3 separate regions of the Homo sapiens genome follow, and regions 2 and 3 are each linked to region 1. The links come from fine-mapping of genetic effects on gene expression. A gene starts in region 1. Each other region holds a variant in brackets. All regions are shown on one strand. Distances are between the middles of the regions.

What was found. PIP is the estimated chance that this variant, and not a neighbour inherited with it, causes the effect.
Region 2: its variant is fine-mapped to the expression of RXYLT1 in blood mononuclear cells (TOPMed, PIP above 0.99). The same link has a PIP of 0.9 or more in caudate and whole blood.
Region 3: its variant is fine-mapped to the expression of RXYLT1 in coronary artery (GTEx, PIP above 0.99). The same link has a PIP of 0.9 or more in tibial artery.

What each region holds. Positions count from the first base shown.
Region 1 is chr12:63,773,321-63,784,082 of GRCh38, reverse strand. It overlaps RXYLT1 (ribitol xylosyltransferase 1), which reads right to left and starts at 4,174. Exons shown (of 6, transcript NM_014254.3): 1 at 3,954-4,174; 2 at 2,909-3,064. The coding sequence starts at 4,122. RefSeq lists silencers at 3,806-4,105, 3,834-4,109, 4,126-4,355.
Region 2 is chr12:63,802,988-63,813,749 of GRCh38, reverse strand. RXYLT1 (ribitol xylosyltransferase 1) reads right to left here. Exons shown (of 6, transcript NM_014254.3): 5 at 8,346-8,516; 6 at 4,188-5,075. The coding sequence ends at 4,658. It overlaps RXYLT1-AS1 (RXYLT1 antisense RNA 1), which reads left to right. Exons shown (of 4, transcript NR_126167.1): 3 at 1,443-1,543; 4 at 4,810-4,905. Among named protein-coding and RNA genes, the nearest start is that of RXYLT1-AS1, 14 kb to the left of the region's middle. The variant G/C (reference allele first, on the strand shown) is at 4,640.
Region 3 is chr12:63,736,816-63,747,577 of GRCh38, reverse strand. No RefSeq gene overlaps it. Among named protein-coding and RNA genes, the nearest start is that of RXYLT1, 38 kb to the left of the region's middle. The variant G/A (reference allele first, on the strand shown) is at 5,216.

The DNA of each region.
Region 1 (10,762 bases):
TTAAGGATGCTGAGGTGAAGAGATTATTATAGATTATCTAGGTGGGCCCTATGTAATCTCAAGAGTCCTCACACAAGGGAGGCAGGAGTGTCAGAGTGAGGCAAGGGATATATAAAGATAGAAGCAGAGGTCAGAGTGATGTGGGGCCATAAATGAAGGAATACGGGTAGCCGCTAGAAACTCTAAACGGTAAGGAAACAGGTTCTCCTCTAGAGCCTCAAAAAGTAACACAGACCCCACACATTTTAGAGTTCTGCCTTCAGAAAGGTAGGATACTGCATTTGTGGTAATTTGTTATGGCTGCAATAGGATGCTATGGATTATACAGTTAAGATTATGGTACCTGGAAATGAGGTGCTACTGTAACAAATACTTAAAAATGTGGAAGTGTCTCTGAAATTGGGTAATGGGGAAAGGCTGAGAGAACTGTGAGGACATGATTTTAAAAAGCCTAGATTAGATTGCCTTGAATAACCTGCAGATAGAAATATGGATGTTAATGACTCAGCTAGTGAAGACTCAAGAAAGTGAGGTAGAGTAGAGAAAACCTGTATTGTCTTAGAGGATATCTAAATGATCACAAGCAGATTGTTGGTAAGAATATGCAATGTTTTTTTTTTTTGAGACAGAGTCTCGCTCTGTCGCCCAGGCTGGAGTAAGGTGGCATGATCTCGGCTCACTGCAACCTCCACCTCCCGGGTTCAAGCAATTCTCCTGCCTCAGCCTCCTGAGTAGCTGGGATTACAGGCACGTGCCACAATGTCTGGCTAATTTTTGTATTTTTGGTACAGACGGGGTTTCACCATGATGGCCAGGCTGGTCTTGAACTCCTGGCCTCAAGTGATCCACCGGCCTCAGCCTCCCAAAGTGCTGGGATTACGGGCGTGAGACGCCATGCCTAGAATATGCGTATTAAAGAAATTGCTGGTGAGGGCTCAGAAGAAAATCAGGAATGTGTTATTAGAAACTGGAAGGATGAGGATCCTTGTTATATAACAGTAAAAAGCTTAGTTGGATTGTATCCTGCAGTTACATGGAAAGCAGAACTTGTGATAAACTTTAATAATTAGCTGGAGGGTTCCAAGCAAAGTGAAAGGTGTGGACTGGTTTCTTGGTGATTAGTGAAATATAAGAAAAAAGAGATAGAAGGAAAAACTGTTAAGCAAAAGGGAACCAGAATTTGATGATTTGGGAAATTCTCGGACCATTAAGATTGCAAAAGATGTGAAAAATTAGATTTGCTGCCTGAAAAGGGTGTTCCAGAAACAAGACCAAGGATGTGGCTGCACAACCTTTTGCTAGTGCCTCAGAAGGATCAGAAGATCTGAATATTCATTCACACAAAGGGCTCTTTGAAGAGATTATACATGTGACTTACAGGTCTCCTCAGCCATCTCAGCAGAAGCCAGAAATGGAGATGGGATTACTCAGAAAAGATCTGCAGAGGAGCTTCCCATCTAATGGAGTGAATCCTGTGACATACACAGAGGGCCCACAAGGTTCTTCAGAATGTTTTATGAGCAGAAACGCTGCCAGCTTGGACTAAAAAAGACAGCAAGAGGTCACAATGAAAGAAGGCTGATGGGCTCTGAAAATTTTACCAGCTGTCAACAGGCTGATAAAATTACGAAGCTGCAAACTTGTGCTACTTTTTATGAAAAAGGAAAAGATGACTTCAAGAGTGTGGCTGAGATGCCAGAGGGCAAAGCTGTACAACCTATAGATTATTCCTAGGCCTGCAATATCATCTAATGGAGCTGGCCATTTAGATGAAATTTAGATTTCAAAATTGCTTGGACCAGTGACACTTTTTTACTTCAATTTTTCTCCCCTTTTGAATGGGAATTTCTATAACGGTATTTTATAACTGTGTCTAGAGAATAGGCTGATCAAAGTAGCATTTTTCCTGCTAGCAGAGGTGTTAAAAAAAAAAGGTAGCATTTGATGAAATTCACTTGGCCACTTTGCACTTATCAGATTGAAAAGAGAGAAGTCTGGAAATGAAAATCTGAGATTTAAAAGAAGAAATCAATATTAGAGACTTTATTTAAAAAATAATGGCTAGAACTTGATGATTGAAGGCCTGGTTTCAGGTACTTGAAATTTAGAGGTTGGTAGTAATCTTCTAGGATATATACTTGTATGTAAGTATGAACGAATTTATGAAATACCATGAGCAGAGCACTATGCTCTGTACATTTTCCTCTCATCTGGTACTTTCTATCCATATGCCTTATTGTACATAAACCCAACTCATGTTCAAAGGCCACATAAAGCGCTTTCTAAGTCACTAAATTCTTTGTGACTCTTTAAACCCTCAGGGCCCCATTCTCTAATTGAGCATAATATATATCTTAGAACACTACACTCTCATGATATTCACAGCAAAAATGCTTCTGTGGTCAATCAAGTTTAATCAACTACATACTATAATATATTCCTTCGCTGATACAATGAACATTGTCATATTAAAGGCTCTTGAGAAAGGCCTGCAATGAAGAACCTTGTTTAACTTTGTACTCTTCAGTGTTTCCCAAATGTGTTTGGCCATCAAGGGCAGGGGCCACATCTTATACTTGTGTATCAAGTGTCCAAAAAATACACAGATTCATGAAAATTCAGTTGACATATGCATTGCAATCTAATGACACTATACAGCCTACTCAATGTATCAATAAATGAAGCTGTGCTCTGCTAAAGACCAACAGTGGAATATGTATGTGTGTACATTTACAAACAGATGTTGTCTAATTGGAAGGAGAAAGGAATTATTGACAAAAAGCGAAAAAATATATCATGATGCCTTAATTAACAAATTATGAAATAAATTATATTAAAATGAATTTCATATCAATAAAATACATTTTATAATGCTTTTTACATGTCTTCCTTCTACGTATTAACTTACCAATGGCAGCTTTGCCCCAGATTTGTACACTGAGATCTGTTTTTCCTTTCGTGGATTTATCTAATATTTGAAGGCTAGTTTTAAATCTGTGTTGTTGCTCATTTTTTTCATCTCCTTCCCAAGGATTCCATTCTTCACTTTCCAAAGTGGACTGTTCTGTTTTAAAAAGAGTAAGTGTTTACCAGTAAGGTATTATTGCAGTTGTAGGTAAATTCAAATCATTTAAATTAAGTGTTAGTTCTAATTTCATCCTAACTTTAATTTCTGAGAGGTACAGCAACTGAATTTAAACTGGTAATACACAATGAAAACAAAAAAGAAAATCAGCAATTTTTTTACTGAACTTTTTTTACTCTGAAAAGTCTTAGAAATAAAATGCTACCTTGAGACAGGAAAATTCTCTTCCCCAACACAAAACCTTTAAAAATAACAGGATAATATGTATCAAGTTACAAGCTTAACTTTTGCAATTATTTTTATCCATTGTATACAGGTAACCTATGCACAAAAAACTGACTTCAGAGTGTAGTGTTCACCAGTCTTAGATACTATCGTGCAAAATTCTGAATAAAGGGAAAGAGAAAGCCGAGTCTGATCTTAACACAAGTTAAAACACAGGACAGGGGACCAGAATTTGGAGGTAAAGTCTGCCTTATGGTCACTGCAGGATTAGAGAGGGCTTTGTTTCAACATGGAAACGGATGTCTTAAACCTTGCGGCGATTTTGAGGCCTTCCAGGAGCATTCCCGCAAATCTCTGGCATTTGAGACGACGTCTTGGATTTTAACACGTGTTTGAAAGGCGTGCGCGCCTGTCACCCCCTGGGATCGGGAGCGGGGACGGCGTGTGAGATCTGGGTAAGAATGAGGACCATTCTCCAATTCCGAGCCAAGGGCTGGCTCGAGAGGCTGTAGGGGGCAAAGCGCTTCTCAGGCCCTGCGGGTAATCCCGGACTTGAGAGCCGGGTGCGGGGACCCGGCCCCAGCCGCCCAGCAGCCCCAGCCAGGAGCGCAGAGCCGGAAGGAAGCCGCCGACCCAGTCCTACCTCGGCCGCGTCTCTCCCGCGCGGGGGCCGCCCCCTTCCTGAGGCCCCGCGGGGACCCGGCCGGCGCCTGGCGGCGGCGCCCGAAGAAGACGTGGTAGGCAGCGTAGAGGGAGAATAGGCAGTACAGGGCGATAAGAAACGAGCAGAGCCGCTTCCGCGTCAGCCGCATCCCACTCGGGCTTCCAGTCAGGCATCCACCGCCATGGAGCGGGCGGAAAGAGAATCCGCGACACCGGCGGCGTCCGAGGCAGGCCCAGCCCGTTTCCAGGCAGTCCCCAGCCAAGGCTCCTCCGCCCAGCGCCCGGTACAGCCCCGCCCCGGACACGCCCACCGCCCGCCTCCCGCCCAGGCCCCGCCCCCTCCAGTCGCGGCTCATCCACCCGGCCGAGGGCCTGCCCACCTTCGACACTGGAGGAGGGGGTACTGGAGCGGCCCCTACCCCACGCTGCTTCCAGACGCCGGGCTGAGTGGGAACCTCTCTGACCTCTGCCGTGTACTCATTGCACCTTTCAACCCTGGCCACTTTTCCCAAGTACATAAAGACTCGGGGGAAAAAGAACACCCGCGGTGGTCCATGAAGGCCATGTGAAGGCATGGACTGTGACGTTTTTTGCTCTGCATGGAATCCCTAGCGCCTAGGACAGTGCCTACTACGTTGATAGATGAGTGAATATAAACGTCCTTTAAAAAAATTAAGTGATGATGGTCGCTTAACATTGTGAATGTAATTAATACCACTCACTTGTATGCATAGAAATAGTTAAACTGTCGAATTCATGTTTTATATACCTTACTGCAATAAAAACATTTTTAAAGTTAAGTTTCATTATTATGTGAGTTGAACGCACATAGGCATGCAGTATTTTGTCAAATAGAGGCTGTAAATGTGAATGCTTCAGAAAACTTTGTATCCAGCCTTGGGAAGATGGGCTACAATGTTTTGTCAGTTGCTCTGGTACTACTGTTCAAATTACCCAGCAGTCTTGCGACGGTATGTCTGCTAATTAGGGTGACCAATGGTCCCAGTTTGCCCAGGACTGTAAGGATTCTCCAGTTGGAGGATTTTTAGTGCTAAAATTGAGAAAGTCCTAGGAAATCAGTAAAATTGGTCACTCTAGCACCGACCCTAAACTATTAGGTCAAACACTTTACCCAATCCCCCAAACAGTTCCCTGCCTCAAAAGACCTGTTTTAAACCATTTTTGCTCAGACTCCCCAAATCCTATAAATATCACCCCCAACCTTCTCCTTCTGAGACTGCCAAGCTTCTGTCAAAGTGTGGCCTCCCTTACTGTAGTAGATTTAATAAATTTAGCTTTCCTTGATTAACAGGCTATTCTGGTGTCTTAGGGAGATGGCAGTTGTTTTATGTATGCTGTATTGTTGTTTATCCTATTTTGTTTGTTTGTGGAAATGACAATTATTTAAGGATAGGAAGTAATTACCTTATAATTACCACAAAACACCCACTGTATCAATGTACATTCAGATGCTACTGACTAATGGTTTTACTATTGAGAAATGCATACAAGGTAAAACTAATATGCAGTTGATGTCATCTTGAATAGGGGAGAGGGCCATGAAAATGAAGGAGTTGTTTTACCTCAAACTGCAAATGACTGCATAATTTGATGATAAGCTTTTAAAAATGTATTTAGGTTACAAAGGAATCTTCTAATTGATCTAAGTCTGGCAGAGTTCATTTTCCTTTCTCTTGGTGTTTAATGGTTGAGCTACAGCTGGGAGCTACTTTCTGTATATGCTCTCATCTCTTCAGGTGGATGGAAAGAGAGGGAAAGAGATGTGGTGGGGAATGCAGCAGTGTGGAGGGGGAGACAAGGTTAAATATCCTCTGGGGGTTGAAGCTCCGCATATAGGGAACCAGACCTGAGAAGGAAAGATGTGGGAGGAAGAATAGAAATAAAGGAATATGAGATGAATTAAACTAAAGCAGGGCTAAAATCTTTACTTGGTGAAATTTTCTACTCTGTCTGCAAAGGGAAGAACTATTAATCAACAAGATATTGAGAAAATAGCCCTAATGTCCTAATGCCTTCTTCTAGTTGACTGTGAAATAGTACACGCTTATTCTTAGAAGTCCCCAGTACAAATTTCTTGTGATACCTGGTCAAAATTCTCTTCTTAGTTTATCAAGTTTCCAGTAATACTCAAGAAGTGTGTTAACTACTTTGAGAGATTTTTCACAGCTTGGCCAAGCTTCTGTGTCAAACCCTTTGCAAGATACTTCTAGCAGGGCTTGGCCATGTAAGTTATAAACTATAGCTATTTCAAATTTGTAAGAATCAGTCCTAAGAAGATACATTTTTCTTTTTCATGTGAGTACAATGCTCACAAAAATAAGTAATAAAACTCTACAGAAATATATTGGCATTGGGAAATAGTAAGCAAATTATAACGCCTTCTTTAAACAATCAATCAAACAACATACTAATAACCAACCAAACAGAAACTAGGATGAAGGTTAAAGACAGAACAACTCTGAGGTGAAATTGAAGCAGATGAGCAGAAACAGATTCTGTGCAAACATCACTTCCTCTGTAAATCTTTCCCTCTCCTATTTCCCCTTCCCCACACCCTCTAAACCCTATGCACAGTTTCATCATTGGTGTAACATTTCATCACCAATTTTGTTTATGTATTCCATATGATCCACCAGCCTTAACTAGTGTGATAGTTGTCTATGGACTCTGTTCTACTAAAAGCCCTTATGAGTGGGTGCCACCATGGTGATAGTCTCAGAGAGTGATTCAAGACAGCTTGAACCCATGTGACTCCATCTCTCATTTACCACTGACTTCATTTGCATATGCTGTTTTTCTAATGATATTATTATCATCAACTTGGGGTAGGAGGCTACTGAAAGGCCCCAGGAGTGATATAAATGCATTTCAACCTCTTAAAAATTAAAAAAAAATTTTGTGAGTACATCGTAGGTGTATATATTTATGGGTTACATGAGATTATTTTGATATAGGCATGCAATGTGTAATAATCCCATCAGAGTAAATAGAGCATACATCCACTGAAGCATTCATCCTTCGTGTTACAAACAATGCAATTATACTCTTTTAGTTATTTTAAAATGTACAATTAAATTATTTTTGACTATAGTCACCCTGTTGTGCTAGCAAAGACTAGGTCTTATTCATTCTTTCTTACTGTTTTTTGTCTGCATTAACCATCCCCACTCTCCTCCCCCACCTGCCCCCACTACTCTTCACAGCTTTTAGTAGCCATCCTTCTACTTTCTATCTCCATGAGTTCAATTGTTTTATTTATTTATTTTTTAAAGTAGAGACAGGCTCTCATTATGTTGCCCAGGTGGGTCTTGAGATCCTGGGCTCAACTGATCAGCTTGCCTTGGCCTTTCAAAGTGCTGGGATTACAGGCGTGAGCCACTGTGCCTGGTCTCAATTGCTTTAATTTGCAGCTCCCACAAATAAGTGAGAACATGCAAAGTTGGTCTTTCTGTACTTGGCTTACTTTACTTAACATAATGACCTTCATTTTCATCCATGTTGTTGCAAAATGCAAGCTCTCATTCTTTTTTTATGGCTGGATAGCACTCTGTGGTGTATATGTACCACATTTTCTTTATCCATTCATCTGTTGATGAACATTTAGGTTGCTTCCAAATCTTGGCTATTGTGAATAGTGTTGCAATAAACATGGGAGTGCAGATATCTCTTCAATATACTGATTTCCTTTCTTTTGAGTATATACCTAGGAGTGGGATTGCTGACTCCCATGGTAGCTCTATTTTTAATTTTTTGAGGAACCTCCAAACTGTTCTCCATAGTGGTGGTACTAATTTACATTTCCACCAACAGTGTACAAGGGTTCCCTTTTCTCCATATCTTCTCCAGCATTTGTTATTGCCCTTTCAACCTCTTTTAGTCTCATTTAGTGATGTCTTTCTGTGCTTTTTGCTCACTTCATTTTTTGTGGTTGCAAGAATGTAAATATTTGATGTATTCCCTCTCCTAATTTTGACTTTTCATCACAAGGTCTTGATGGCTTATACATATTCCCGTGAATCCATCAACTTCATGCATTCTTATTTCTATTAACTCACTTAACTCACCCAGATAGATTTATTCTTTTCCAGTAGAATAGACACATCTGATTAATAATGCACCTTTAATAATCTGAGATTTATCTTTATTTTTACAAACTCTGCCATGTTTATTTTATATCAGGATTATTGCTAGCTGTCTCAAATGGGTTGGATAGCATTTCAGTCCTTGAACAGTTTATATAGCATGGAAAATACTGTCTGTAAAAGTCTGACTGCACTTTTCAGTAATATTCATTGGCCCTAGAACTATTTTTTGAGATAGTTCTTTAATAACACTCGTTTGGTTTATTCTTGCTTGTAATATTAATACTTAAGTCTGTTTTGGCAATTTTTATTTACTAAGAAGCCAGTTTACCTCATTAGGATTAAAAAGCATTCAGATATATCCCTTCTTTCATTCCTAATTTTATTCTTTTGAGTTTTTCTTTTTTATAGTGAAATTTTCAGCTTTTATAATTGATTGTATGATTTTATTATTGGTTTTCCCCTCTCCTTCCAACTATCTTTGGATTTATCAGTTTTGTTTGTCTATGTGGCAGTTACTAGATTGTGCATTATTTTTCATTATTTTGTTTTTTCTGTTTTCCTGTTTGTTTGATCTTTTCTCTAACTTTATTAATTGGACAGTTGGTTTAACATTTTATCATTTCTTCTTAATAATGAAATCATAGAAACTGATTAATTTACCACTGCATCCTGAAAGTGCAATATTTTTACTCTTTGCTATTTAGATTTTTTATTTGATCCAGTAGAGATTATAGGAGAGAGTGTATGTGATATTTTAATGACCAAGTAGTAAACATTTTGTTAGATCAGTCCTTAAAATTTTTACCAATATGATGGCTGCAATGGACTTTTATTATTGTAATTTTCATTTCCCTGGTTAATAATGAGGTTGAGTATCTTTTAATATATTTATTGTTTTTTTGTTTTTATCCTCAGTTTTTATGTTTTGTATAGTTTTTTATTTGTTGCTTATCTTTTACTATTGATTGTAGAATTTCTATTTACTTTATACAGCAATCATTTGTTTATGTACATTAAGTATATTCTTCCAATTTTTGGCTAGTCTATTTTATTTGTATACATATTTTTATTTTTTCTTATTTTTATTTTTTATTTTTTTGGACAGAGTCTTGCTCTGTCATCTAGGCAGGAGTGCAGTGGTGCAGTCTCAGCTCAATGCAATCTGTGCCTCCCAGGTTCAAGTGATTGTCCTGCCTCAGCCTCCCAAGTAGCTGGGATTGCAGGTGTGTGCCACCACACCAGACTAATTTTTGTATATTTAGTAGAGATGGAGTTTCACCATGTTGGCCAGGCTGGTCTCAAACTCCTGAGCTCCACCCACCTTGGCCTCCCAAAGTGCTGGGATTACAGGCGTGAACCATCACACCCCACCATATTTTATTTATATTTACTTTTATTGTAAAGACATTTTAAATTTTAACATAGCTAAATTTATCAGTCTTTTCCTTTACAGTTTGGGGGGGTGTGTATGCATATATGGGTGTGTGTGTGCATATGTGTATTCTTTAAGAAAAATATGCCTGCATATTCCTATTAGAATCTTAATTAAAATTGGATTAAATTTATAGAATAATTTGGGTAGAATCAAGTTACAATATTGAGTTATTCCACCCAAATGTATTACAAATTATCCCAGTACCAATTATTGATAGGCCGTCCTTTAATGACTGCTCAGCAGTGCCTCATCTGTCAACATGAGGCTTTCTTGTATGTGTAGTCTAGCTCTGACTTCTCTGCCTTTCTTGTCTCAATTTCATACTATCTTAGTTACTATAGCTTTATAAGTCTTCATATTTGGAAGGACAATCTCTCCAATTTGCTCTTTTATTTTACTTTTTAAAATTGTCTTGGCTATTCCTATTTCCCTGTACATTTTAGAATTAGCTTGTCGAGTTTTACTAAAAAACACTCATGAATGGTAATTAGCATTTTATTGCATTTATAGGATAACTTGGGGAATAATTGACTTTTTATATAATATTGAATTTTTAATTCTATTTATGGACACTAAAACTGTGCCTGATTTAATTTTATACAAGCAATGCTACAGGGAACCCCATTGTGTTTGTCTCCTTGTTCCCGTGTGTGACATCCTCCAGGGCACAGCTCCCAATTTGCACGTCAATAGAAAAATGTGAAAAAAAATTACATTAATTGACAAAAGTAAGTCACAGAAGGAAATGGATGGTAAGGTAGTATTTAGGTCCAACTTAATGTCTTTCAATACAGCTTTATAATTTTATCCATACAGTTTGCATATCTTTTATTGGATTTTCTATAATAGGATTGGCTATGTGTAGCAGAGACTCAAAATACCAGTGATTTAAATAAAACAAATCTATTTTACGCTACATTAAAGTTTTGAATGAAGTAAATTCTTCACTTGTCTCCTGTGATATTGTGACATGTATGTTTGATTTTCCACCTCCAGTTTCTTGGCATACAACTAAAATCCTTGGAATAAGTGTCTTTTTGAATGCTAATGAGATGACTGGTGGCTGGTAGCCCCTTGGGTAGCTTCAGGTTAGGTGCTGGTCACTGGAAAGACCAAGGCAGGAATAGAAGGTTGGAACTTTCTTCTCCACCCCATAACCTCCACAAAGGAGGGAGGGGCTGAAGGTAAAGTTGATCAATGGTCAATAATTTAATCAATCACGCCTATGTTTCTTTCCTTCCTTCCTTC
Region 2 (10,762 bases), 30 kb before region 1:
GCTTGTGAATACTGATTTTTCATAGACATTTAAGCTGTTGTTTTATATTTATGAAGGTCTTATGTTAGAAACTATTGATAATGTATTAAACTTTATATTTCAGAAGTTCTACTTGCTAGTTATAGCTTTAAATCTCAAATTATTTTGTAGATCAAATAATATATCTCATAGGTAAGATTTTTTTATACAACACCTGATTGTTTCTTCAATTTGTAATTAATCTCAGTAACATCAAATTGTTTTTGTGGTAGAAATTTACCACCTGAAAAAATATTACATTATTTAAAAAATTGCCTAAATAAAATATAAATTTGAAAAACAGTACAAGATTTCATGAATTTATTAATTAATTTATTTTTTTCAGACAGGATCTTGTTCTGTTGCCTAGGGTGAAGTGCAGTGGCGTGATCATGGCTCACTGCAGCCTCGACCTCTTGGGCTCAAGTGATCCTCCCATCTTAGCCTCCTGAGTAGTTGGGACTGCGGGCATATGCCACCATGCCCAGTTAACTTTAGTATTTTTGTAGAGCTAGGTTTCACCATGTTGCCCAGGCTGGTCTTAAACTCCTGGGCTCAAGTGATCTGCCCGCCTTGGCCTCTAAAACTGCTGGGATTATAGGCGGGAGTCACCATGCCTGGCCGATTTCATCAATTTAAGTGTATGAGTGTTAAAGAAAAGCAAGGGTGCTGTTTAAGTTCTTCAGCTTCATTGTTACAAATAATCAAAAGGGAGAGTTGTTTGATTCATTCTTTCCCTCTAGGACAAAACATAGTCTCTGTCGTGAAATAAGAATTCACTCACAGTGTAGATACACCTTCCTGGCACCATGCTGATTAAAACATACTTTTAGAATATAATATCTCAAAAAATATGTTTAGATGTATTTGTTATGCTATAGATTCCATTACTTTGTTAGAGACTCAAAATTACTGTGGCTTATACATGATAAAGGTGAAAAAAATGTTCAAAGCTCCTTTTCTGCTAGAGTTTTATATTACAGTGGAAGGAGGTAAACTAACAAAGAAATATATCTAGTAACTGAATGAAATGAATGTTATTTAGCTACTGAAATCGTGGTATGAATGACACATTTTTTTTCAGAAAGAGAAAAAAGCTTATATAAAAGTATACCCAAGAGAGCATGTTTACTGAACAGATAATGAGGGAAAACTCGAGCACTTGTTGAGGGGTAGAAGAAGACAAGGCTGGAGAAATAGGTTGGAGTCAGATTGTGAAGGATCTTGGAATAACAATTTATAAAATGTTAATTTTAGCTGGGTGCAGTGGCCCATGCCTGTAATCCCAGCACTTTGGGAGGCTAAGGCAGGTGGATCACTTGAGGTCAGGAGTTTGAGACCAGCCTGGCCAACGTGGTAAAAACTCCATCTCTACTAAAAATACAAAATTATCCGGGCGTGGTGGTGCATGCCTGTAATCCCAGGTACTCAGGAGGCTGAGGCAGGAGAATTGCTTGAACCCAGGAGGTAGAGGTTGCAGTGAGCCAAGATTGCACCACTACTGTACTCCAGCTTGGGCGAAAAAGTGAGTATCTGTCTCAAAAAGAAAAAAAAAGGTAATTTTAAGATATAGGCAACAAAATGCCACAGATGCCTTTAATTGATTGTGACCTGATAGTATTTCTATTTTAGGAATATGTGTGTGTGTGTCTCCTTCTCCTTCTCCTTCCTCTCCTTCCCCTCCTTCTTCTTCTTCCTCCTCTTCCTCTTCCTCTCCTTGTCTTCCTCCTTCTCCTCCCCCCTCCCCCTCCTTCCTCCTCTTCTTCCTTTTCTTCTTCCTCTTCTCCTTCTCCTCCTTCTCCCTCTTCCTCTTCCTCCTCTTCTTCTTCCTCTTCCTCTTCCTTTTTCATACGGGATCTCACTCTGTCATCCAGGCTGGAGTGCGGTGGTGTGATCATAGCTCATTGCTGCTTCAGCCCCCCAGGTAGCTGGAACTACAGCTGCATGCCACAACCCTTCACTAATTTAAAGTTTTTTTGTAAAGATGGGTCTCACTACGTGACCCAGGCTGGTCTTGATCTCCTGTCCTTAAGTGATCTTCCTGCACTGGCCTCTCAAAACTCCAGCATTACAAGGCACAAGCCACCGAGGCTGACCTATTATTATTCCTTCATGGCATTTTTCCTTCAATGAACTTGACATTTCAGATTTAAAGTTTGTTGAAATTGGAAATGATTAACTTGCACCCATGAAACTAAGGCAGTGCTGAGAGTTGGAGAGGCAGGGAAGACACACTATTGTGGTTGTCCCTCTGAGACAAGACAAAATCTGCAAATGAGGGAGAGGTGGTGGGGATGGAGGGAGAGGCCTTATTCTAGGAAGACTTGGGGGTAAAAGGCACATAATTTGGTGATTAATTGGCGGAATAGGGAGGAATAAATATGATGTTACAGATTGTAGCTTGGGAAACAGCTAATGAAACCATTTACTGAAATTAAAAATGTTTGAGAGGAAATAGGTTTGTGTGTGTATATTGTGGAAAAAGACAATAACGAATACAGTTGTAGTTATGTGGTTTAAGTGCCCAAAAGACATCTAGGTGGGGCTAAAAGAGCCATTTGAGGGCCTGTGACACACTGAAGATGCCAAGTCATATGCCAGACAACTTACAGCAAGCGGGACTCTAATTCTTTCTGAAGATACTAAAGAACTATAGCCATGCATGGCTTAATGACAGGGGTATGTCCTTAGAAACACATCCTTACATGGTTTTGTCATGCAAACATCATAGAGTGTACTTATGCAAACCTGAATAGTACAGCCTACTACACACCTAGGCTATGGCTCCTAGGATGCAAACCTATATGTATAGCACTTCACTGTACTGAATACCATAGGCAATTGTAACACAAATGTAAGTATTTGTGTAGTTAAACATAGAAAAGGTACAGTAAAAATATGATATAAAATATTAAAATGGCACATCTGTGTAGAGCTTTTATGAATGGAGCTTGCAGGCCTGGAAGTTGCTCTGAGTGAATGAGTGAGTGGTGAGTGAATGTGAAGACCTAGGACATTACTGTAAACTACTGTAGACTTTATAAACCCTGTATATTTAACCTACACTAAATTTATAAAAAAATATTTTTCTGGCTGAGTGCGATAGCTCACACCTGTAATCCCACCACTTTGGGAGGCCAAGGCAGATGGATCACCTGAGGTTAAGAGTTCAAGACCAGCCTGGCCAACATGATGAAACCCCGTCTTTACTAAAAATATAAAAAATTAGCTGGGCGTGGTGGCAGGTGCCTGCTATCCCAGCTACCTGGGAGGCTGAAGCAGGAGAATCGCTTGAACCTGGGAGGCAGAGGTTGCGGTGAGCCGAGATCATGGCACTGCACTCCAGCCTGGGCAATAAGAACAACTTCGTCTCAAAAAAAAAAAAAAAAAGAAAAAGAAAAAAGAAAATATTTTTCTTTCTTGACGAATAAATTAATGTTAGCTTACTGTAAATTTTTACTTTATAACTTTTTAAACCTTTTGATTATTTTATAATAACACTGCTGAAAACATTATACTGCTGTACAAAAATATTTTTTATATCCTTATTTTATAAACTTTAGTCTATTTAAAAATTTAAAAAATTTGTTACTTTTATTTTCTTACTTTTTGTTAAAAATGAAGACACAACCGCATTAGCCTAAGCCTAGACAGAGTAAGAATCATTAACATCACTGTCTTCCACCTCCACATCTCACCCCACCACAAGGCCTTCAGGGGCAATAATAGGCATGGAGCTGCCATCTCCTGATAGCAATGCCTTCTTCTTCTGGATACCTCCTGAAGGATCTGCCTGAGGCTGTTTAACTTTTTTTTTTTTTTTAATAAGTACAAGTAGTACACTCGAAAATAATGATGATATGGTTTGGATCTGTGCCTCACCCAAACCTCATGTTGAATTGTAATCCCCAGTGTTGGAGGCAGGGCCTGGTGGGAGGAGATTGGGTCATGGAGGTGGATTTCCCCTATGGTGCTGCTTTCCTGGTAGTGAGTGCTTGTGAGATCTGGTTGTTTAAAAGTGTGTAGCACCCACCCCCTTTTCCCTCTGCTCTGGCCACGTGAAGACATGTCTGCTTCCCCTTCGCTTTCTGCCAGGATTGTTAAGTTTCCTGAAGTTTTCATGCTTCCCGTACAGTCTGTTGAACTGTGAGCCAATTAAACCTCTCTTCTTTATAAATTACTCAATCTCAGGCATTTATTCATAGCAATGCAAGAACTAATACAAATTGTAAAAAGTATAGTATAGTAAATACATAAACCAGTAACATAGTCATTTATTGTCATTATTAAATATTATGTACAGGACATAATTGCTGTACTTTTACTTGACTGGCAGTGCAATAGATTTGTTTACACCAGTATCACCACAAACACGTGAGTGATGTATTGCAATACATATGTCATCACTAGGCTATGACATCACTAGGCGATAGAAATTTTTCAGCTCCATTATAATCTTATGGGACCACTATCATATATGTAGTCTACCACTGACTGAAATGTCATTATGTGGCATACATAATGTAGAGTTTTCAAGGGTACCTTAAAGAACATCTATAAATACATACACACACAAACACATTTATACACCCAGTAGTCAAAATGATTTTAAAAATCACAT[G/C]TTAGCTCAAAAAGATAATTAACTTTTATTATTCATTAAAAATGAGCTTTCTAAAATATTAGTAAATTTCATTTTAAGCTCTGTCTTGAAGTGCTGATACCACTGAAGTAACATTTTTCTTCTTTCAATTTTTTCTTGTAAAATTATAGTTTTCTCTTTTTCTAAAACAGCAGGGAGTTCCTTCCAGTTCTTGATAAAGATAAAGGGAGCACCCATGGACTTGAGTAACTGCAGAGGAGCACCGTGGTGCACAGATGTATTCCCACAGTTGCCAGCTGTCATCACGTCTTCCACCACAGGAATGGAGCCATAGGAGCAAGCCTCATAGATTCGATAGCATTCTGTGTTTACTCCGACCGGGCACAATGTGAGATCACTCTGAAGCAAGGCATCTTGGTAATTCTTAAGACTTTCATTTGTTTCCTGAGGCTGCCAGCTAGAAAATCAGAAAAACAACTGTAGTTTTCACTTTACTAAGTATATAGTTTGTGAACAAAAATACCTTATCTTTTAATAAAATCAGTTTCAGGAAATGGTGAAACTTTATAGAGATGATAGGCATAAGAGATATCCAAAATCCTGGCCCAAACAGATTTCTTAAAAATGTTGAAGAATTGGAACATTTTACAGTTGTACATTTATAAAATCTAGGAGTCACCGTAACACTTCTGAATGGATAATAATAATTCAACCGATACTTTGGGAGTGCTAGGTCCTCTCTTCCCTACCTTGCCCTCATGGAGCATATATTCTAGTTCTAGTGGTGGAGATGGATAGTGACCAAGTGAAGTCAGTAAATTATTTAGATGGGGTAGAATACTGTGAGAAAAGAGCAAAGGAGTAAGTAGAGCAGGAGTTTCTAAGGGGGTAGGGTTGCAATCTTAAATAAGTGATGAGGGACTGTCTTACTGCGGCAGCATCTGAGCACAGAGTTGGGGATGAAGGAGCAAGCCACGTAGATCTGGCGGGATAAAAGAGCAAGCAAGAGTGAAGGCCATGAGACAGCATGTGCCTGGCATGTTCAAGGAGCTGCGGGGAAGCCAGGGTGGCTGAGGTAGGGTAACTGAGGGAACAGGCGCAGAAGATAAAGTCTGAATGGTCACACGGGACTCTATCATGCAGGCTTTTGATCATGGGGTGACATGACGTGATGTAGGTTTCATCAGAATCAATCTGGCTATTGTGTTGAGAATGGACTGTACAGGGGCAAGGGTAGAAACTGAAAGATCAGTAAAGAAAGATAGACGCGGCTGGGTGCGGTGGCTCACGCCTGTAATCCCAGCACTTCATGAGGCCAAGGCGGGTGGATCACCTGAGGTCAGGAGTTCGAGACCAACCTGGCCAACAAGGTAAAACCCCGTCTCTACTAAATACAATAATTAGCCGGGCGTGATGGCGTGCACCTGTAATCCCAACTACACGGGAGGCTGAGGCAGAAGAATCGCTTGAACCTGGGAGGTAGAGGTTGCAGTGAGCCGAGATCCTGTCACTGCACTACAGCCTGGGCAATAAGAGTGAAACTCAGTCTCAAAAGAAAAAAAAAAAGATAGATGCTTTCTCCTGACTATTCTCAGTGAAATAAGCAATAGGGTCATAAAGTAAGAAAGGCGGAGGTGTTAGAGTGTAGGAGAGAAGAAGGTATAAAACAGCCTTCTAGGAGAGTGGGAGAATATATGGACAAGGGAAATATAAGACTGCTGGGCACCTGAGGTTCAAAGTCACGTGTTTAAATAAAGGTCAATTAGCACCTTTCTCCAATTATGTGTAGTTGCATGGGTGCAGGCATGGAGTAGGCAGAGAGCTGGATTTAACCAGAGTTATGGTTTGCCAGATTAGGGAATTAGGGAGCTGAAGGTATAGGCAATTATGATTGACAATGAAATTTAAGTTAGGTGAAGAATAAAATGAAGAAAGGGGAGTGAAGGACAACAAAAGGGTAGTAGGAACAATAGATTCTAAGTGCCAGCTGAATTGTCAGAGTCAGATTATTACACGGAATGAGCTGGAATGACAGATGATGGTGGTTGTAGAAAGAGATGCTGGGACTTGAGATCATGTTCAGAAGGTGCAGTATGTGTAATGACAAAGTCTAGGAAATAACCATGAGAGAGAATGGCTGAGGTCAGGTGGAAGCCCAGATTATTGGAGGAGGGGAGGTGAAGGAACTGCAAAGACCAAAATGACAGAAAGACCATCTATGTAGATTTGCCAGTCACTAAGAATTGAGAACAGAGTAGTGTCAGACAGAGCTAGAGAGTACCAGGAGCTAAACTCTTCGAAGAAGTAGGGGGAGAAACCCAAGGGTAAGTGCATGATTTCAGAGAGTAAGGGTGATGGATGGTTTTGTCTGCTGACATGAGTTTCAAAATTGGGATTATTAGGGAGGGAAAGGGGAGAATAGTCTAGAAGCAACAATGAGAAACAAGGAAAACATCTACTCAAACCTCTGGCTCAATGGTATGAGAGGAGTTACAAGAATTATTCCCATAATAACCTTTGTTATTTTACACTGTCCTCATTCATTCCACTCCAGACATACTGGCCCTGTTGTTCCTGTAACATAGTAAGCACATTCCTGCCTGCCTCAGGGCCTTTGCTCTTCCCTACGTCTGGAATAGTCTTCTCCCAAATATACACAAGACTCACCCATGCACATTCTTAAGGCCTGTGCATAAATGTAACCTTCTAATGAATGCCTTTCTTGGCTATTCCAAAATAGCAAATGCTCCACCACCAACACCCAAGCTCTTTCTATGCCATTCTTCTGCTTAATTTTTTACAGGGCATTTATCATCTTCTGACACACAATATATTTTACTTGCTTGTCTACTCCAACAAGCATTTAAGTGCCAGGAGGGCATGGACTTTGTTTTGTTCACTGCTGTATTTACTGTGGGTAAACAAGTTTCTGGCATAGAGCAATTGCTTGGTAAACACTGACTGAACGAATATGATATGGTTACATTAGCAATAAAGAGTACCTGCTATAATTTAAAAAGTAAAATTCCAGACCTAACTGGACATTTTTAAGGCATTACTTCCCTGATGACTCTGCATTATGCTTTGTTTATTTGAAAACTTGATTTGTCTATTTAAAAACAAAATAAATGATTGCAAATTTACTTCCTTCACAACATGAACACCTGTTTCCTGGTTACTACATAAAAGAAGACATTTAACCCTATTGAGTCTCCCTATCCAACCATTCATCCACTCACCATTTATCCTAGGTCTACTTTGTGCAAGGTCCTATGTTAGATCTGGGGATTCACAGAAGAATACAAGGTCCATGTCCTGAAGATGGTGTCAGGTTCCTGAATTCCTGAATTTGTGAGACCTGCACACCGGTCTTGGAACACTGAATTGGTCCACTGCACAACATCTCAGTGATGAACCTAAGTATCTCATTAGCATCTATAATCTCCTGTGTGACTAACAAATATTATTGAGGAAACCCTAACAACTGAAATTTGCAAATGACAGTTACCAGTGTTCCTCTTCAAGATGGACTACAGTCATAGGCGGTTCTCTCTATTCTAAATGTGTACAACCCAGTCTTTTCACAGTTTTAATTACTAATGTATCTTCTGGGGAAAGATTGGTACAAATAGAGTTAACAATGCCTCTTTGGAAACCTGTGTTTCTACATAAAGCAACTCTCAGACTGGAGAACAAAATGAATGAATTAAATAAGCATAGAACTTACTGTTCTCTTGCTGAAACCCAACAAAGCTTATCGTTCCCATCTTTTTTCAAAATGTTCATTAGTGCCTGTCTGGATGAATTTTCATAAATCGTTCCTAAGAAATTACATAAATATGGCCTCTCATCATGCAGCATTGACCAACTTGCCTCCACCACAGGAAAATTCCTGTATCTATAAAAATAAATACACATGAATTAACATATGATATAGAATTGGCAAAAATTCCCCATAACCCAATCTCTTAGGTAGCAAGAAGTATACAGAAGAGGTTTAAAATGTGATTTCTAAATCTCAAATTGTAATTTTCCATGAATACTTTGGAAAACTCCCTGAATCTACTGACTTAAAAAAATTGAATTTCACACTGACATCTCTTACAAAAGTGTTACAGAGATGTTGTGCCTAAAGTTATTTGTTTTTGACATTCTTTAACTTGCATTACTCATCTGCAGCTGTTAGGCATGTTACATTCAAAACCTTCAAAGTATAAAGACTCTTCTCTATTCATAATGATCACGATTTAAGCAACATTTTAACCAGGTGATGAAAAGATTACAGAATACTCCAGGGGAGGGAGATGGATGGGGAAAAGGAAGATGTTGATCGAAGGGTATGAAGTTTCAGTTGGACAGGAGGAATAAGCTTTAGTGATCTATCACACAGAATAGGGTGACTATAATAAATAATAATGCACTGTATATTTCAAAATTGCTAAAACAGCAGATGTTATGTTTTTACCACAAAAATTGTTAAGTATATAAGGTTACGGATTTGTTAGTCTGATTTAAGCATTCTACGTTGTAAATATATTTCAAAACATCATTTGTACCCCATTATCATATACCATTACTATTTGTCAATTAAAAAAAAGGAAAGATTATATATTTTGCTATTGCAAAGGGCTCTGAAAAATTAATCCCAAGGGCTTTTCAAGTAGATTAAAACAAACTGACAGATAAAACCATGGTATGCCATACAGGAAAAGTTACCTATTTTTATGAGCATTTGGAAATACCAGGGATTAAACTGTGTACCTGAAATGTAACTTTCACACGAGAACAAAATTTTACCTAACAGTTTGTATATAACAGGGTTTCTTAGCCTCAGCATTACTGACATTTTGGGTTAATTTTTTCTTGTGGAGGCTGTCCTATACATTGTGGGGTGTTCAGCTGTATCCCTGGGCTCTATCTGCTAGATACCAGTTGTGACAACCTCTTTCCTCCAGTTGTGACAATCAAAAACGTCTCCAGGCCAGGCACAGTGGCTCATGCCTATAATCTCAGCACTGTGGGAGTCCAAGGCAGGCAGATCACTTGAGGTCAGGAATTTGAGACCAGCCTGGCCAACATGGCGAAACCCCCTCTCTATAAAAAATACAAAATTAGCCAGGAGTGGTGATGCCCACCTGTAATCCCAGCTACTTGGGAGGCTGAGGCAGGAGAATGGCTAGAACCTGGGAGGCAGAGGTTGCAGAGAGCCAAGATCGTGCCACTGAACTCCAGCTGGGGTGACAGAGCAAGACTTCGTCTCAAAAAAAAAAAAAAAAAAAAGTCTCCAGACACTGCCAAATGCCTCCCGGTGGGCAAAATTGCCCCTGGTTGAGAACCACAGACCTATATAAGAAATATACTGGCCTAGTGCAACAACATCATGATTACCAAGAGGTTCCATCTTATACTATATGAAAACATTTTACAAATGCAGGCTCTGCTCAAAAAATAGATTTTTAAGAGGGTCTTAAACCTGGCTTTACTTAACAAGAACCTTTTTGTCTGGCCTTACCCCAAACCTACTGAGTTAGGGTGTTATAGGAGTAGGCTTGGGAATACATCTCATTACTGGCACAGATGTGCCAGTGACATCTGTGTCGCTAACTAGGCAGCAGTCTAAGGCCACATCCCGCAACCAGGGACAGAATGATGAATAATGAATGTATGATTCAAAAATCATGTCAGTGAGATTTTTCATAATTTATCCACTCAACAAATACAGAATACCTACTCTGCAGGTGCTGTTTTAGGCTCTGTGGATAGAACAGTGAACAAAAGAGACAAAAATCCCTGCTCTCAGGAGGTTTATATACTAGTGGCAACTTATCTTAAAGTCAACTTGCTCTTAATTAAAAACATCCTATTAACAGAAAGATAAAAATATATGTTTTCCATTTTATAGCTGGAGAAAGACTATATCTTTTTTTTTTTTTTTTTTTTTTTTTTTTTTGGTGAGACAGTCTCATCTCACTCTGTTGCCCAGGCTAGAGTGCAGTGGTACAATCTCAGCTCAATCTCCTGGGCTTAAGTGATCCTCCCACCTCAACCTCATGAGTAGCTAGGACTAGAGGCGCCATACAGGAGTCCATGTCACCATGCCCGGATAATTTTTGATTTTTTTTTTTTTTAGAGATAGGGTTTTGC
Region 3 (10,762 bases), 37 kb after region 1:
TTTGGAACTTTGTGAAGTTTTTTCCCCCTAAATATTTTTGATCCATGGTTGGTTGAATCTACTGATGGGGAACCTATGGATATGGAGAGCCAACTGTATTTCTATTAATGTTTCCAGTTATTTCTATGATATTTAAGAGAACAAAAAATATTTTTATCATCTTTAAGCCTATTATGAGCCCCTCATGTCACATGGTACACAGCAATCCTGTAATCAAATTCATCCCAGGCCACATTCATCATCAATGATTAACATGCTGCCCATGATGCTACTTCATTTCCTGCAGGCTGCCAGAAAGAGGTGGTACAAACAAGAGTTTCCTGACATAACTCCATGTGCATAGGAATGTAAATTTAAAGCTAATCACTGAGAAATAAAAATTTTGAAATTGTTCAATTTTTAAAAATTCACTCTGTTCCTAGCACCACCAGCCAAATAGTCCTACCTTAATCCTACCCTAATCCTGTTTTACAGCCTGGACTCAGCTAGACCCTGCTACTAAAACATTAAACCAAAGGATATTGAGGATTCCTTTCCGCTCTGTATCACACGGTTATATACTAAAGGCACATAGTATTGCGAGGGCGATAAATACAAACAAAATTAAACAGAACAAAAGACAACAGTACTGAAGGAGCACAGAAAAGAAGAATGACATCAGGGAATGATTATTAGTCTTAGCTTTGGAACTGGAACTTGAAGAATGAGTAAGATTGGCTGGGTGGAGTTGAGATGATACGGTTTGGCTGTGTCCACACCTGAATCTCACCTTGAATTGTAATAATCCCCACGTGTCAAGGTTGGGGCCAGGTGGAGATAATTGAATCACGGGGGTGGTTTCCCCTATACTGTTCTCATGGTAGTGAATAAGTCTCGCGAGATCTGGTGGTTTTATAAACAGGAGTTCCTCCGCACACGCCCTTTTGCCTGCCGCCACGTGAGTCGTGCTTTTGCTCCTCCTTTGCCTTCTGCCATGATTGTGAGGCCTCCCCAGGCAGGTGAGACTGTGAGTCAATTAAACGTCTTTCCTTTATAAATTACTCAGTTTTGGGTATATCTTTTTTAGCAGTGTGAGAACAAACTAATACATGAGGTAAGGGCAACCCCCAGGAGAGAAAACCATAATAATGTTCTTTTGGAGAAGAACTCTCTCTCCTTTGTTTTTTGTGAGTCTTTCATAATTTTTCTTTTAGCAGTTTGTTTCCATCAATTACTTTAAATTTAATGCCATCTTCTCACGAACAAATTAGTATTACAAAGCAATTTATTGTCTGATCACTGAGCCAGTTATAACTAAATGCTACTGATTAACATGGATATTTGGTCCTTGCTTAATGTTATTTCAAAAATTAAATTTCCAACTTGTTGAACTGCCTATTCTCAGATCTTTTCATAGGAAATAATCTAGTGCCTTAAGCTGCTTGGACTATACAGGAGCCCATTAAAGTTGATTAAATTTTAATTTTTTTCTAATGAATCCTATTTATATTTATTCTCCCATCATACTGTTACTTATCAAATTAACTCTCTTCACTTGTCACTTTTTTTAATAGAAAAATGGAGCTTATTTTCTGTCCTTTTTAAAGCAAAACATCTAGATTTGTTTTCTGTAGCATGAGATTCATTCTAAGGTGAATTCCTTAGCCTATAAAGCAAGGTTTCTATTTCCTCCTCTTTTTTTTTTTTTTTTTTTTTTTTTTGAGACAGAGTCTTGCTCTGTCACCCTGGCTGGAGTGCAGTGGTGTGATCACGGCTCACTGCAGCCTTGACCTCCTGGGCTCTGGTGATCCTCTCACCTCGGCCTCCTGAATAGGTGGAACTACAGGCACGTGCCACAAAGCCCGGCTAATTTTTCTATTTTTTGTAGAGACAGGGTTTCTTCATGTTTCCTGGGCTGGTCTTGAAATCCTGGGCTCAAGTGATCAGTCAGTCTTGGCCTCCCAAAGTGCTAGGATTATAGGCATGAGCCACTATGCCCTGCCCATGGTTTCTACTTCTAAAACCACCAGAGAGACTTGTTAAAACATCATTTTAATCTACAAAACCAAGTTTTGGTTAGGACATATAGAACACTGAATGGAAAACTACATTAGGATTAACAAAACCTAGTCCTATATTAATTTTGCATCAGATTTGTATCATCCTGGATAAGCACATGGACCTCTGAATTGTGGTCTTTTCATTTCTATCATCATTCCTGTTATGTTTGTGGGAATGGTGGGAGGGTTAAAGCATTGTCAAAAGCCTTAGTTTATTCTTTGAATCTCTGTGGTGCTTTTGAAAACTATTGTTCAATCAACTTAATCTGGGATGAGGTAATATATACAGTAGTTCAATACTAGAAATCATTGCCTGGTGACCAGAGCCAGTGATTTTAGGTACATGAGTTTAAATATAATTTCAAATTTAAACTTTAATGTAACCAAGAAGGTATCTCTTTGTGAAATCTCCCCTACTATCCTAGAAATTTAATTTCTCCTTTCTAATTCTGTACCTTGTATAACTAATCTGGCACATATCTTGATATACTGTAATTTTTAGGGTCCACTATTGTACTGCACATTCCTTAAGGAAAAGGGCTGGACTTCATTTATTCTCAAGGGCAGCAGGGTGGAGAATGAGTAAGACACAGGCTCAAAAGCCAACCTGCTGGCTTTAAATCCAGGTTACACCACTGGCCGTCTCTGTGATCTTAATATCTCCCTCCCATAGTTTTCTCAGTTTTAAAATGAAGACATTAATAAAAGCATCTTGCTAGTTGGGATTAAAGAAATGAATATATGTCATTGGGGTCAATTCAAGTTTTATAGGCCTAAAGTTTAAACAATTTTGTAGAACTCCTTAAGAGAAAGAAAACAAAATTTAGTGTGGAAATAGATATATTTAAAGTGATGAAAGAACAAGTTACACACACAAAAAAAACACAGAATGTAGCAAGCTATCTTAAGAAAACTAAGAGCCTAATGTACCTCTATAATTTTTCCTTCTTTTTTGGCTATATGTTCTTTGATTGCATTTTCATACAAAAAGTTTACTATTGAGATAACACAAAGATTTTAATAGTTAGCATAGCTGATTGAAGTTTGTTTTTTATTAATCATTTGGAAACGTTTATCTCTGCTTTACAACTCATCAGTAGTGTCATACACATTTTTAGGATTATTGTCAAATTTGGGAAAGCCTCTATCAAGATATTATTTCTGGCCTGCAACTTCATGTTACAATGGCTGGTGAGTTTTCATGATGAGTGGTTGGAGCGTTCCTGGAGGTCAGTCCAACACTGAATGACTAAAAATAGCTTCTGCAAGACAGTGACTGCCAAACACAAATATTCTCTAGAACAGAAACTAAATATATGATGAATTTAATTTCCCCTTAACTGGATCTGCAAAATTCTTGTGGTAACTTCCATGCCACTCAACATGACATTTTGCAGAATTTTAGGATGTATTTGTTTAGGTGAACACATTGCTAAAACCTCTTCCAAAGTTTTGAAAGGGGCTGTGGAAATGAGGGGACCTGAACGTTAGCTTCATTAGCTTCATGGTAATCTGCCTGCTGCTTACTAAGAACTGTGTAACAAGTGACTATTCCAGCACAGTTAGCACAGCACACAAGCAGGGGCACACCAAAGACTCAAACTGCTAGAAAGACATCTTCCTTCTTCATCCTAGCTGAGAGTTAATTCCTCAGTGTGGAAGAAATTAAGACTGCTACCAGCCTTCCTTGAATTCCCTCCAAACCCATGTGAGTAAACTTCTGCATCATTTTCTCTGCTTAGCACTCTATTTTCTCACCAAACTGATGCCCTGTCAGGAGTTCCAGTTCATTTGGCTAGAGTGAGAACATCTGTTTAAATTATCTGTTGTTGCCTAACAAATGTCAAAGAAAAAAATTATTCGTGACACTCGGTAAAGCACAGTAAGGCAGACATTTTTCAGAACATCTTGGTAGGTGAAGGGATGGCACAGTGGGGTCCTGCAGTAGGGGAGAGACATTGTGCTCAACCTCAAACAACAAAAAAGTGGACATTTCTATCTAGAAAAAGCAGGGTGGGCTCAGTGGGTGGAAAATTACTAACTGGAAACATCAGGGGTAAGGGAAGATTCTGGCTGAACTGACCTAACAGGATTCTTGCTAAAGGCAGGCAGTGCTGATCAGACATCACCTGGGTGCTGGTGGAGGGGGAGGAAAATGATCAGGTATCGAAGGTGATCAGATACTGAGGATGGGGAATTCTGGCTAAATGGACTTGGCAGGATTCTTGTTAAAATTGCATTCTATAAGGAAGGACACCGGAGTCCAAGAAGAGACTGATGTAACTTTGATTCTTTGTCACAAAGTATCGAAAAACAGCTGCTTAAAACAACAATTTTATTGTTCATAATTCTGTGGGTTAGGAATTAGGTGGGGTTCACTGGGTATATCTCATCTCCCTTCCATGTGGTATCAGCTGGGGTCACACATGCTGTTGCATTCAGCTGAGAGCTCAGCTGGGGCTGCGACATTCAAGACGGCTTCACTCACATGGCACCTAGGCTAAGTGTGACTGGAATGGCTGAGGACTGGCTGGATCTCTTTCTCTCTGTCTCCTGGAAATCCATTATTTAACAGCACGACTCTTGCTTCCATGCTGGCTGGATCCTAACACAATGAAAATGGAAGCTGCCAGGTCTCTAAAAGGACAGACCCAAACTGGCACTGAGTATTGCGGCTACATTTTCTTGGCCAAAACAAGTCACAAGTGAGCCCAGATTCAAAGGGAAGAAAGATAGGTTCTACCTCTTGATGGGAGAGGCAACATGCATGTTGGTGGCCGTCTTTACAGACAATTTTCTACAATGTGTCCTCTGGCCACAACAATTCACGTCTCTCCGATAGGCAAAAGATACCCAACCTCCTTTCCTTCTCTCTACCTGCTAAAGCCTCATCTAGTTACCCATTAGACTTAAACTCCAGTCTGCATCCAGTCCTGATAGCTCTCTGTAGAGAATAAGAGACTTTGTAAAGAGAGAGACCATGCAGACTGGAAACAATGGATCCAGGTTGACAGCCAGCACCAAAGCCCCAGATGGATGAGCAAGACCATCTTGGACCCTCCAGCCCTAGTTGAGGGTCTCAGACAGCACCATGTGGAGTGGAGAAGAACCACCTCAACTGATCGCTGCTGGAATTTCTAACCCACAGAGTCATAAGTAATAAAATTATTGTTTTA[G/A]GCCACTAAATTTTTGGATATTATGCAGCAATAGCTAGCTGAAGCAATATTCGACTTAGACTTTATCTTCATTTATTTCTTGCTTCTTTTATTACCGTAGGATTTGCCTTGGATTCACCTTTTGTCATTAAGCCTTGACATTGAGTTTCCATTCCTCCACCTCATGTTCCTTAAGCTTGTTTGCCCCAGATTCCTCATTCTCCGTATCAGTGTCTGTGGCCAAAATCATCAAATGTTTCATGCCTCCCTTCCATACAACAAAGGTCATTGGATTTGTGATTAGGAACTTATAAGTCTCCATTTCCATGACAGATATGTGGATAAGAGCCAGGTTGTGAGATTGAGGAGTGGTGAAAAAAACCCAAAAATAGCCTGTGTAAACTTTACAAAGTTTGAGAATAAAAGGAGAGTAGGGGATGGGGAGATAGGTTAAGGGGGATAGGGATGGGGCTAAAAGAGGAAAAAAGAAATAAATAGAAATTATATAAATAAAAATAGATGTGTATATAGATATTTACACATCTATATACCTGTACCTGTCTATACTTGTACCTGTCTCTGTATCTACATCTATATCTTTATTCCAGGCCAAGATGTGACTATTTGAAGACCTGAAGTAGTTCTGAAAAGATTTAGGAAATATAAATCCAAGGTGTCTAAAATCTCACAAGATTACCAAGGATGATGATTGAGAAAGCATAGAGAGCAAAGTTATGAGTCAGAAATACAAACTTCTTGTGGAAAATGACTGAAACAAATCCTTCATACAGTATCATATTTCATGACAAAATTAGATTAAGAAAATCCCATCACATGCAGAGGAAAATAACTGTGACTTGCTAGCTTCTCTATCTTCAAATAAGCTTATGCTGAAGATAGAAAATCAAGGAAGCAGACAAAATGTTGAAAATTCCATAAGAGACTGCACGACAAAGCTGGCATATGAGGCCGTTGTGATCTTATATTTACTAATATTACTGTTCTAACAAGCTCCTCAGTGCGATATTCTGAAACATTACCATCTGGCAGAAATCAAAAGTAAATGTCTCAAAATTCACTACATACCCTGAAAGAGAATTTAAAGAGACAATTATATATTCAGTATCTTCAAATCCATGGAAATACCTGTTACACTGAATTGGTTCTAGGATATGGTACAACAATGAATTTTGTGAGGATTAAAAATGCCTTCATGGGATGGAAGATTATCATATCTCTACTTCCAATGCAAATGAGAGACTAGTTCCTAAATCACATACTATAGTATCACTATTTTGCATATACTCATGAAATAGTACTTCCAGAGACAGAAAATCAAGTTGCCCTAAAAATGACATCACGAAGGGCTCACTCGTATAAAAATGGCTGCAATAGCCTGACAGCCTTACCACAAAAGGTTACCTCAGGCAAGAAAATGATATATGTGATCATTTTACCAAATGTTTTGTCATGACATAATGAGTTGCCATTTTTCTGTTTCCTGTAACACTTTCCTTGCCCCCTCCCCTACCTACATGGTTTTTGTTCCATCAACACCTCACTTCTAGGTACCAGTAATTGAGTCAGTTTTTGCTGTGGTAACGCTGCAGAAAAACAAGCTAAATGTATTTATTTTCACAATACATGTGGCTTCAGGCTGCAGATGACTGAGGGCTGGCTCTATGTGTCTTCTCTTCTTAGTTTGGGACTTGGTCGAAAGAGCCACCTCTCACTGCACATGCTGTTCTATCATGGCAGAAGATGGGAACAGCAAGCTGTGATGAATCAAGCAATTGTGCTTAAAGTTTTTGTGCAGAATTGGCACATTGCTACTTCTGCTCACATCCTGTTGGCCAACGTGTGTCATAATATCACATGGCCAACCCCCAAAATCAAGGAGGTGAAGAGAAATACTCCTTTCATAGTGACCACCTTACACGACAAAGGGCGGGGGTGGGATATTCTATTACAAAGAGGGGCTGGGCGTGGTGGCTCACACCTGTAATCCCAGCACATTGGGAGGCCGAGGCAGGTGGATCACTTGAGGTCAGGAGTTCAAAACCAGCCTGGTCAACATGGTGAAACCCCATCTCTACTAAAAATACAGAAATTAGCTGGGCGTGGTGGTACACACCTATAATCTCGCTACTCTGGAGGCTGAGGCACGAGAATCGGTTGAGCCTGGGAGGCAGAGTTTGCAGTGAGCTGAGATTGTGCCACTGCACTTCAGCCTAGATGACAGAGTGTGACTCTGTCTCAAACAAAAACCAAACCAAAGGAAAAGAAAACCCCAAAATCAAACAGGGAGCAAGGAGTTGGAAACAATTATCTAATCTATTGTCACTTCAAAATAGTTCCTTATTTCAGGGTGACATTAGTTCATTCATTCATGAATTCAACACTTATTGAGTACCAAATATATACTGGATATTGCTCTTAGTGCTTGGACTACATCAGCAGACAAAACAGACAAAGCCTTCTCTCATGAGGTTTATATTCTAGCTGATATTTCTAAATAGAATATTGGAACCTACACTTCAGGTTTGCTTGCTATTGTCCATGAAGTTAGGTTTGGTGGTGATCTTTCACTTGCTGTTGGACTGCTCTTTTTTTTGTTTTGTTTTAAAATGATTCTACCTCTGCCTCAGCAATGCTATTTATGAACATTTTGAAGTAGGAAGTGATGCCAGATTATAATTACATGGGTTTATATATGTGAATTCTCTAAAATGTTGCCAGATGATGTTATGTAAAAATGTTAAGTATAAATTGGGAGCTGAAATAATGCCCAGAGAAATATTTGTTATCCACACTAACCAAAATTTTGAAAAAGCGTACAAAATATTATTAGAATGAAGAAGATCTAGCATTCGATAGCACAACAGGGTGACTATAGTCAATAATAATTTATTGTACATTTAAAAATAAAAGAGTAAAACTGGATTGTAACACAAAGGATAAATGCTTCAGGGGATGAGTACTCCATTTCCCTGATGTGATTATTACACATTGCATGCCTGTGTCAAAATATCTCATGTACCCCATAAATATGTACACCTATGTACCTACAAAAATTAAAAATTAAAAGAGTAACAAAACAGAGGAAGGAAAGAAACAGAAGACACCATCTGAAAAGGCAGAGATCCAGCATACAGAGAAGATGGGGAGTTAGACTTTCTATGTCCCTTCCTAAGTCATACGTTCACTCATGATTCAGTTATTTATCCAGTGCTTCTTTCGCATCTCCTACTATGTTCCCTGTTCTCTCGTAGGTGCTGGGAATACAGTAGTATGCAAAAGGGACAAATCTTGACTTCATGAAGCCTATGTTTTAGCGGAGGGAGAAAACAAGTAATTAAGTAAAATACGTAAGATGCCAGATGATGCAGCAGTTTGGAAAGTAAAGGTCATTGTCAAAATGGTGAGAAGAGTCTAATTAACTTAATGTAGTTAATAAAGAGCTTAATAAAGGTTAGTAATTAATAAAACAGTGCTTAAAGCACAAGGGATATGCTATGCCCTGGAGCTAGTAACAGGGAGGAGCTCTTAACACCTGAAAGTAAGGAGAGGGAGAAGTTACTCAGAGAAGGGAGCTGAAGGGAGAGAGCTGCTTGATAGGGAGTGTGGTCCTCACAAAAGGGAGGCAACCAGCTGGCCATGGTGGCTTACACCTGTAATCCTAGAACTTTGGGAGTCCAAGGCAGATGGATCACCTGAGGTCAGGAGTTCAAGACCAGCCTGGCCAGCATGGTGAAACCCCGTCTCTGCTAAAAAAAAAAAAAAAAAGGCACAAAAATAATTAGCTGGGCATGGTGGCACGCGCCTGTAGTCCCAGCTACTCAGGAGGCTGAGGTAGGAGAATCACTTGAACCCGGAAGGCAGAGGTTGCAGTGAGCCGAGATCACGCCACCGCCTCCAGCCTGGGCGACAGAGCAAGGCTCCATCTCAAAAAAAAAAAAAAAAAAAAAAAAGAGGGAGGCAGCTAACACACCGGGACTTGGCAGGAGCGGAGCTGGGAGAATAAATTCCCAACCTCTTTCTCTTCCCTCCTTGGATCTCGTTCTGCTGCCTTTTATTGGTCAAACCCGACAGGAAGCGGAAGGACAGCAGAGCTTGTTGATGGAGAGCATCCGGTCAGCCTCCTGGTACACGTGGCAGGGCTGAGACGGTGGCAAGTGAATATGGGGCTGGGGCTGGAAGACATCCGGGGCAGATGACGGTAAGTGCTATGGTGAAAAATAAAGTAGGAAAGAGAGACAAGGAGGAAATACGGTAAGGGACTGACATTTTGAAATAGGGGGCTCAGAGGAGGCCTAAATCAACAAGATTGTGATATTTAAGCAAAGACTTGGAGGCTGAGGAATCTGAGGAAAGAGTATTTCAGGCAAGGGAATGCAGATGAGAAGTCTCTGAAGCAAAACATTCCCTTGGGGCTGGAATGGAGTCCAGCTGCAGCCACAGCGGGGATGAAAGCAGTCAGCGAACTGCCCCAAGTGGAGCAGCTTCTGTGACCTCTCCACTTTGGGGTCTGAGTGGGCACCGCTCCTACCTGTTCTCTGCCTTGTGAGCACCTGGGAGAGACTCTTAGGGTGTAAGTGAGGAGGGGTGGTAGTGGGGCTCTATCTCTTGTGCCATGACCCTGAAGAAAAGAACCTTTGTCCTTTTGAAATGGCATCGTTTGTGTGGGATAAAACTTGAGGTTCATTGTCTAATGCCAAGGAAATCGAAGACGCTGACAAACACAAGGAGTGAGTTTAAGAGAAGAGGCTTAATAGGTGAAAGAAAGAGAAAAGAGAAAAGCTCTGTCTCCTGCAGAGAGAGATGGGTTTCCGAGTGGGTCTTCCAGTTTTGTGGTGAAATGCACGGGGTTTTATAGACGAGCTTGAGGATGCGGTGTCTGCTTTACATAGGGCCTGAGATATTGGTCGGACCAGGTGTGCTGTTTGCATAGCACACGAAGAAACTGGCCGCCCCACCCTAATCTTTTATTATACAAATGGGTTCCCTACCTGGCTAATGCCATGTTGCCTGCTTCTTTACTGTACACGTGGTTGACAAAAGGGAAGATGCAGCCTCCATGTTGAACATGCCTGGCTCCCATTGTAGCCTTTTCCTGTTGGCACAGCTGCCAGCATTCACCCGTGCGAGCTTCTAGCTTGCTTTTCTATGCTTGCAGCTTGATTTTTCAGGCTGCTCTTTGTTAGAAAAGAAATGATTTGGGGGTTGCTTTTGCATTAAAAGAGAAACCTTGCCAAGGACTCTCTTTCCCTCACTATCTGCCTTAATAATTTCTTTCTAGCTCCTGTATCACTTTCTCTCCCTCTCCCTATCTTTCAAATTTTCCTTGGTTAATAGAGGCAGATGAAGGAATAAAGCAATCTTTTAGAGATGCAATGTTTCTGACTTTTCTTCTTAATTTCTAAGCAGATTTGAAGAAAATTACCTGATTTATGTATGTATGTTTGTATTTATTTCTATTTTTTTGAGATGGAGTTTTGCTCTTATCGCCCAGGCTGGAGTGCAATGGTGTGATCTCGGCTCACTGCAACCTCTGCCACCTGGGTTCAA